Homo sapiens: one gene and its partner. The gene in region 1 interacts genetically with each later gene. Each region holds a gene or a part of one and is shown on either strand. Other genes may lie near its edges. The genes, in order: GNL2 and MPHOSPH6.

The links.
Region 2: changes in GNL2 (region 1) and MPHOSPH6 together harm fitness more than expected from each alone (negative genetic interaction), as found in Homo sapiens cells (one large-scale study listed by BioGRID).

What each region holds. Positions count from the first base shown.
Region 1 is NC_000001.11:37,582,147-37,585,972, forward strand, and holds part of GNL2 (nucleolar GTP-binding protein 2), read right to left. Parts: intron 1,788-3,826; coding exon 1,721-1,787; intron 791-1,720; coding exon 632-790; intron 191-631; coding exon 77-190; intron 1-76. UniProt on the Homo sapiens protein: GTPase that associates with pre-60S ribosomal subunits in the nucleolus and is required for their nuclear export and maturation.
Region 2 is NC_000016.10:82,147,576-82,150,683, reverse strand, and holds the end of MPHOSPH6 (M-phase phosphoprotein 6), read left to right. Parts: intron 1-1,280; coding exon 1,281-1,375; intron 1,376-1,820; coding exon 1,821-1,953; 3' UTR 1,954-2,522; downstream 2,523-3,108. UniProt on the Homo sapiens protein: RNA-binding protein that associates with the RNA exosome complex. Involved in the 3'-processing of the 7S pre-RNA to the mature 5.8S rRNA and play a role in recruiting the RNA exosome complex to pre-rRNA; this function may include C1D.

The DNA of each region.
Region 1 (3,826 bases):
TATGCCATGGCAAGACAGATTCTTATACCAACTCACAGCTACACAACTCCAGGAGAAACAGATCAGGGCTCAATACCTTTCCAAACTGCCGCAGAAGCTGAATGAATGCTCCCTTGCCAAACGGGTTAGTAAGGCTTGCATGGAAAGCAAGTGTTGGATAATCCTGGGAGAGGACAGCAACCCACCGTTTCTAGAAGGAGAGATGAAAACATTTTGGTAAACTGCAGTACATTTATTTACATTATGTGGAAGAATCAGAGCTTGAATTACAGAACTGTTTCAAATATACTGTTGTCTAAGGAAAATGTTAGCTATAATTCTTTGAAATGTTTTTTCCAAGTATAACAGTTAATGCTTTGTTCTTCTGTCTTATAAATACAAAACAATATTCCAAAAAATGTCTTCATTGTTACTAAATGCAATTAATGGAGCATAATGTGAAGCAGGCAGTGGCCTCAGAAGCCGTCTCCTGGTGCCTCTGCCCACTATCAATGAGCACACTTTCGTGTTTCCAATGAGAGCACTCCCATTACTACAATCTCAGCCGGACAACACTTTAGCCTAAAAGCCCTACAACTGACTTACTAACAGATGTCTTAATAGTCTATTCTGGTTTAGTAGTTGTACTTACTGTTGCCCAGGTTGGAACAAGGTCACATTTGTTAAGTACAAAAATGAGGTGTTTCCAAGGTTTTTCCTTCTTCAGGTAAGTTTCAATGTGAGGGGAACGAGTACCCATTGGATCTCTAGCATCAAGAACTTGAACTACAACATCTGATGAATCTATCACCTGAAAATTCAGAAAGGCAAAAATGGTTTGCTACAGTACAAATAAAAGAGGGATGACATTTAAGGGAGTCTGGGAAAAATAAAATAATAATATTTAGAGACAACTTCAAAACAGTCTCTGGGCAGAGTTCGTTGTGGCTAATCTCAAGGCCCAGTGATCAGAATTCAAAAGGTTTTTCATCCTGTGGCTTTTGAAACCTGCTGAATTTAAAACAGAAAAACTAGCTTAGATGAAACTCAACTTATTTCCTAACTACTATGGATTATTGAACTAAATCATTTACTTCTTAGACTTCTTTAAGTTTGTAATATTATCTTTAAGTTTGTAATATTATAGGTTTTGTGTATTTCACAAAAAACTACAAAGTTTAGCTTGCCTTCACGGTACTAGTTTCCTATCATGTTACTATTTAATTACGTGATTATACTTGAAAATTTTTCTTCTGAAGGTTATTATTAGTGCATGGACATAAACCTCTGCCGGTTAAAGATCACTGGATCAGAAATCAAGATATACAAAGCCTCCTTCACTAACAAGCTAGTCGAGCTAGGTACAGCATTAAACCTTTCTAGACAGGAGTCCTCATCGATAAAAGGAGAGGGGTGGACTAAATAACTTAAAATGTTGCATGTGACTTTAACTAGGCATGATAAATTTGGCAGGAAATCTTAAAAAATACTGACAGGTAATAAATATGTGATTGTATAATAAAAGATAGCTGTTACTCTTATACAAGTACTTTAAAAAATGCAGTTACCTAGATCAATGGTAGTACGCCTTCCGAGTTTCTTTGTAGGAGGAAGAGGATGGAACAGGCAGTGGTGCCTGTACTCTGCGCAACAGAGCTTCAATATATCAAAATTAGTTTTCTTCTACAAAATCATGAAAGCCCAAGGAACCACTCAATGGGAGAGAATTTAGGAGTCTTACCTTGTAGAGCTCACCCCATATTCTTTTGGACTGTCCCTTTTTATAGATCTCTTCTTGAGCTTCATTTCTAAATAAGAAAGCACCCCAAATGAGCAACTGAAGCACCATCAAGACTAAAAGGATGCTTTAGGGTAAAGTCAATGTACCAAAAAAAACAGTATCAAACCCAGTTGGAGATGGACCAGAAACAAACTGAATTTAAAAAGTGTGCCCAAATGTCTGTCAACAAATAAATGGATAAACACAATGTGGCACATATATACACAAGATAGCATTCAACTTTAAAAAAGAAGGAAATTCCAGCTGGCTCAGTGGCTCACACCTGTAATTCCAGCACTTTGGGAGGCCAAGGAGGGCAGACTGCTTGAGCCCAGGAGTTCGAGACCAGCCTGGGCAACATGGCAAAACCCCATCTCCACAAAAAATACAAAAATTAGCTGGGCATAGTGGTGCATGCCTGTAATCCCAGCTACTGGGGAGACTGGGGTGGGAGAACTCCTTGAGCCCAGGAGGTTGAGGCTGCAGTGAGCCATGAGCAGGCTACTGCTCCAGCCTGGGTGACAGAGCAAGACCCTGTCTCAAAAAATAATTAATTAAAAAAAAAAAAAAAAGAAGAAGAAAATTCTGACACCTGCTACAACACGAATGAACCTTGAAGACATTATGCTAAGTGAAATAAGCCAGACACAAAAGGACAAATACTGTATGATTCCACTTATATTAGGCACCTAAACCAGTCAAATTCATGAGAGAGAAAGTAGAATGTTGTTACCAGGGGCTGGGGGAGAGGGGAAACGGACCGTTAGTGTTAAATGGGTACAGGGTTTCAGTTTGGGATGATGAAAAAGTTCTGGAGATGGATAGCTGCAATGATTGCACAACAATGTAAATGAACTTAGTATCACTAAACTGTACACTTGAAAATGGTTAGAAGAGCTGGGCACAGTGGCTCACACTTGTAATCCCAGCACTTTGGGAGGCTGAGGCAGTGGATCATAAGGCCAGGAGTTCGAGACCAGCCTGACCAACATGGTGAAACCCTGTCTCTACTAAAAATACAAAAAAATTAGCCAGACGTGGTGGCGGGCACCTGTAATCCCAGCCACTCGGGAGGCTGAGGCTGGAGAATCGCTTGAACCCGGGAGGCAGAGATTGCAGTGAGCCGAGATCACATCAAATGGTTAGAAGAGTACTTTTTTTTTTTTTTTTTTGAGACGGAGTCTCGCTCTGTCGCCCAGGCTGGAATGAGTGGTGCGATCTTGGCTCACTGCAACCTCCGCCTCCCGGGTTTAAGCGATTCCCCAGCCTCAGCCTCCCAAGTAGCTGGTACTACAGGTGTGCGCCCCTGCGTCCAGCTAATTTGTGTATTTTTAGTAGGGACTGGGTTTCACCATGTTGGTCAGGCTGGTCTCAAACTACTGACCTCAGGTGATCCGCCCGCCTCAGCCTCCCAAAGTGCTAGCATTACAGGTGTGAGCCACTGCGTCTGGCCACATTTTTTGTTACATATATTTTACCACAATAAAACATTAAACTAAAAAAAAGCATGACTGAATTAGGCAGTATGTCACAGAGAATTACAAAATGGAATTGGCAGGACCTGAATCACAACCTATACTCCATAGCTCCCATATACAGCAGTATTTTTCTGATAAGGTTTAGAATCTGTTTATTTACTAGTCTCTAGGACATTTACCCAAGGTAAACAAAAATAGTTTTGTCTTTACTGCATTACCTACTATACCTGTTGCGGAAGGAAAAATTCAAATCGGCAGAATACAAAGCCAACGAAAGTTCAAATAATTCTAAGAACAAATAAATGAACTCACTGCCTCTTTTTGCTTGGCCTCAAATGGCTTGACATTTTATCTCTAGGTGGCCCAATGCTTGAAGATGGGCTGACAATAGCAATGAGGTAATAACACTGATGCAGTCAAAGGACAATGCCTCTTCACTAAGACAGCAAAACCTCCACTTCATTTAAGAGACATGAGATGGACGAGAATGAGAGCTTTCTAGCACTGCCCAAGGGAAATGAAATTAAACCCTTTCTCAAGAGCAATGTGGCAGCTGCCTATCAAAAAGCATGCATACCTTTTGATATCA
Region 2 (3,108 bases), on another chromosome or scaffold:
TCTGTTCTCTACCAACTAAATATCAGTAGCACACACACACCCCACCCTCCTACCCAGCTGTGACAACCAAAAATGTTTCCAGACATTTTCACAGGTTCCCTGGTGGGGAAAATCATCCCCAGTTAAGAACCACTTCTCTAGGAGCCACAGTTAACTAAGCCAATTGCCAGAGTTTATTGAAAGATTCTAGGTTAGTTTTCCTTTTCTTTTTTGGCGGAGTGGGAGGAGGCATGTGTGATAATTAAGGTGTTATGTTAGAAGTGTTTGTTTTTAATATATGCTGGTCTCGCTTTGACTTTCTTTAATTAAGCTTCAGATTGAGAAGGAGAGGGGCTGGGCAGTGGGGTGAAGAGGGAAGAAAAAGGCAGGGATTATGAAGATGTGGTATTCAAAGAGTAGGGTTTGGATAGGCGAGCATTCCAAAGTATGTCTGCTGCAATGGGAAAGGAGAGGTGCCACTGCCCGCAGAAATTGATGGGGGGCAGGGACGGGTGTTAGAAAATGGCCCTAATTACTGGATTCTGAAACACTGAATACACTCCCCCTAGGAAAAGGTTTTAAACTATTATCACTCTTTTAAGCCTTAGAAAAACTAGTTAAGACTGATTTCTCATCTTTTATTCCTTCTCCTCTTGCTAAAAAGAAGAGATTACACATTTAAAAAAAAAAAGGTCAGAGGATAATTATCACAAAAAGGTTTATGTGAAAGAGTTGGAGGAGAGACCCTGTGGTGCATGGATGTTACATGGGATGCATTATCCACTCTAAAGTTTAGGAGGGTAAGGCTGAGGTGCAGATTCCCTCCATTAAACAGGGCCAGCCTTCCACTTCTCCCACCTCCTCCACTCACCACCACCACCACCAAGAGATGCATTTAAAATTATTACTGACGACTAGTGTTTCTTCCATATGGCTTAAAGATGGGTGGGGGAAGTTCAGGGAAAATCTGAAAGTTTATTATTTCTTCCCCCACTCACCGGAATGTGTCAGCAGTATGCCTGCTTTAAATATGAGTAACTAATACTAAGATTTATGATCTTAAATACACTTTAAATTCACCCTAAGTATAATTCAGTGGGGCTTTGCCTTACTATTTTTTTGACTCAGAGCTTACTTCTCTTACACCATTGTGGTATCAAGTATTACAGAGAGTCCCTTATCAATTTTGACTAGTTCTCTAGATTATTTGACTTCAGTTTCTCTGCCTTCAGGTAAGTTTGACATCAGTTCCTTTCACAAGCGTTTTCTAGCCTGAAGGTCAGCACTGGTGTATTTTTCAGAAATTGATGCTTCAGATGAATGCTAAGCACAAAGCAGAAGAAGTTGAAGATGAAACAGTAGAGCTTGATGTGTCAGATGAAGAGATGGCTAGAAGGTAACCGTGCTGCGCAGCAGCCTTCTAATCTGGACCTAGCATTCATTGGCTCTCCCAGGAATGCTCCTCTTACCCCACAGTGCACGGCAGCTTTCAAGGGAGTCCCCCAGTAGGACGATGACTGTGATCGGCCTTCTCTTAATGGCCTACGGGGGCCACAGACCTGTCTCAGGCTGCCAGTTGAGGGCCCATTTCCAGAGCTGCTGGAAATGTGTATTTTAAAATGTACATCTCTATTTATTTAGGGTAATGCAAACACCAAAATGGCAAGGAATTTAATCACTCTTAGAGAAGTTCATAAATTGTTAAATCAGATGGTTTCTTTTAATGATAGTTTTCTTTTTCGTAATCTTTTTTATTGCATATTTGGTCTGATATTCTTGACAAGGCTTGATCCCTACCTTTTTATTTGAAATTAAACGTGTGCTGCCTGTCCTCTTGACAGATATGAGACCTTGGTGGGGACAATTGGGAAAAAGTTTGCCAGAAAGAGAGACCATGCCAATTATGAAGAAGATGAAAATGGAGACATAACACCAATTAAAGCAAAGAAGATGTTCTTAAAGCCCCAGGATTAAGATGGATGCCTTAAGCGATGGCCCAGGGGTGCTTGGTGGAAGTCAGCAGGGCATCTGGAGCTCATCCCAATGGTGTCTCTATAGTTATTAATACTGTAACGTTTACTTGTAAAGAGATTATCATTTTAGAAACATGCTGTTTTTGAAACAGATGTGTGATGGATGTTGTACATCCTTTGCTTCTTGGTATTCATTCAGAGTGGATTTTTAGCCCCTGATCTACAAATGTACATTGTTACAGGGCTGCTTCCTAAAGATTTTTTTTACCTCAGGTTTCTCTTAATATAGTTCTCCAGTCACTGACCTTGAATTGACTTACATAAACTACTGCCAATGTTTAAATTGCCCTTATGTTTATATTTATTATGTCAAGCCAATTCGTACATACAATTTGGAATCAAATGTCATAAGAATTTATTATATAAATTTATCAAGAATAAAAATGCCTCTCCAGCCTTAAGTATTTACATGCTCCCAGGTCATTGTCAGTTTATGGTATTATGTTGTTTTATTTAAAGCATTGAATTGATAGAAAAATTTGCTCTGTAATAAAAATCTACTTTCACATACTTTTTATATTTTCTTGTACTTTCAAATAACAATTTTAGTCTAATTCAGTAATATAACTTTTTTCCAAATAATAACTTTAAAAAACAGCCATTGATCAGAATATAGTGATGTATTAGGTTGAACCATAAGAAATTGCCTTTTACAGGTCAAAAATAACCTTTAGTTTCTTACGGTATAACCCAACAGAATTTACCACTGACCAATGGTACCATCTCCTAGTCTGAACTCTATTCTAAATGCTAAGTACAGAAAGAAGCACATAGAATTAAGTGTGTGTATGTGTGTCTGTCTTTCTGTCTGCAGATAAGTACCTAGGACTTCTGAGAACTACTGATTTAATTTCGCTCCCAGGAAGTGAATGAGGTACATGTCTCCTCTCTCCTCAAATCTCTGTAAGGAAGGTTTTATTGCTCTGTGACCTCAGTTCTCTGGTGAGTTATGAGAAAAGATAGGACTTTGAAGTTAATCTGGCCTTTTTTTTTTTTTTCACTGTGAGTATGAGAATGATGCACCTCCCAACTCTGGGAAGTAACGAGTTCTTCCCAGTGCCTTACCAGCACCACAATCCACGGACTTACTACCGGA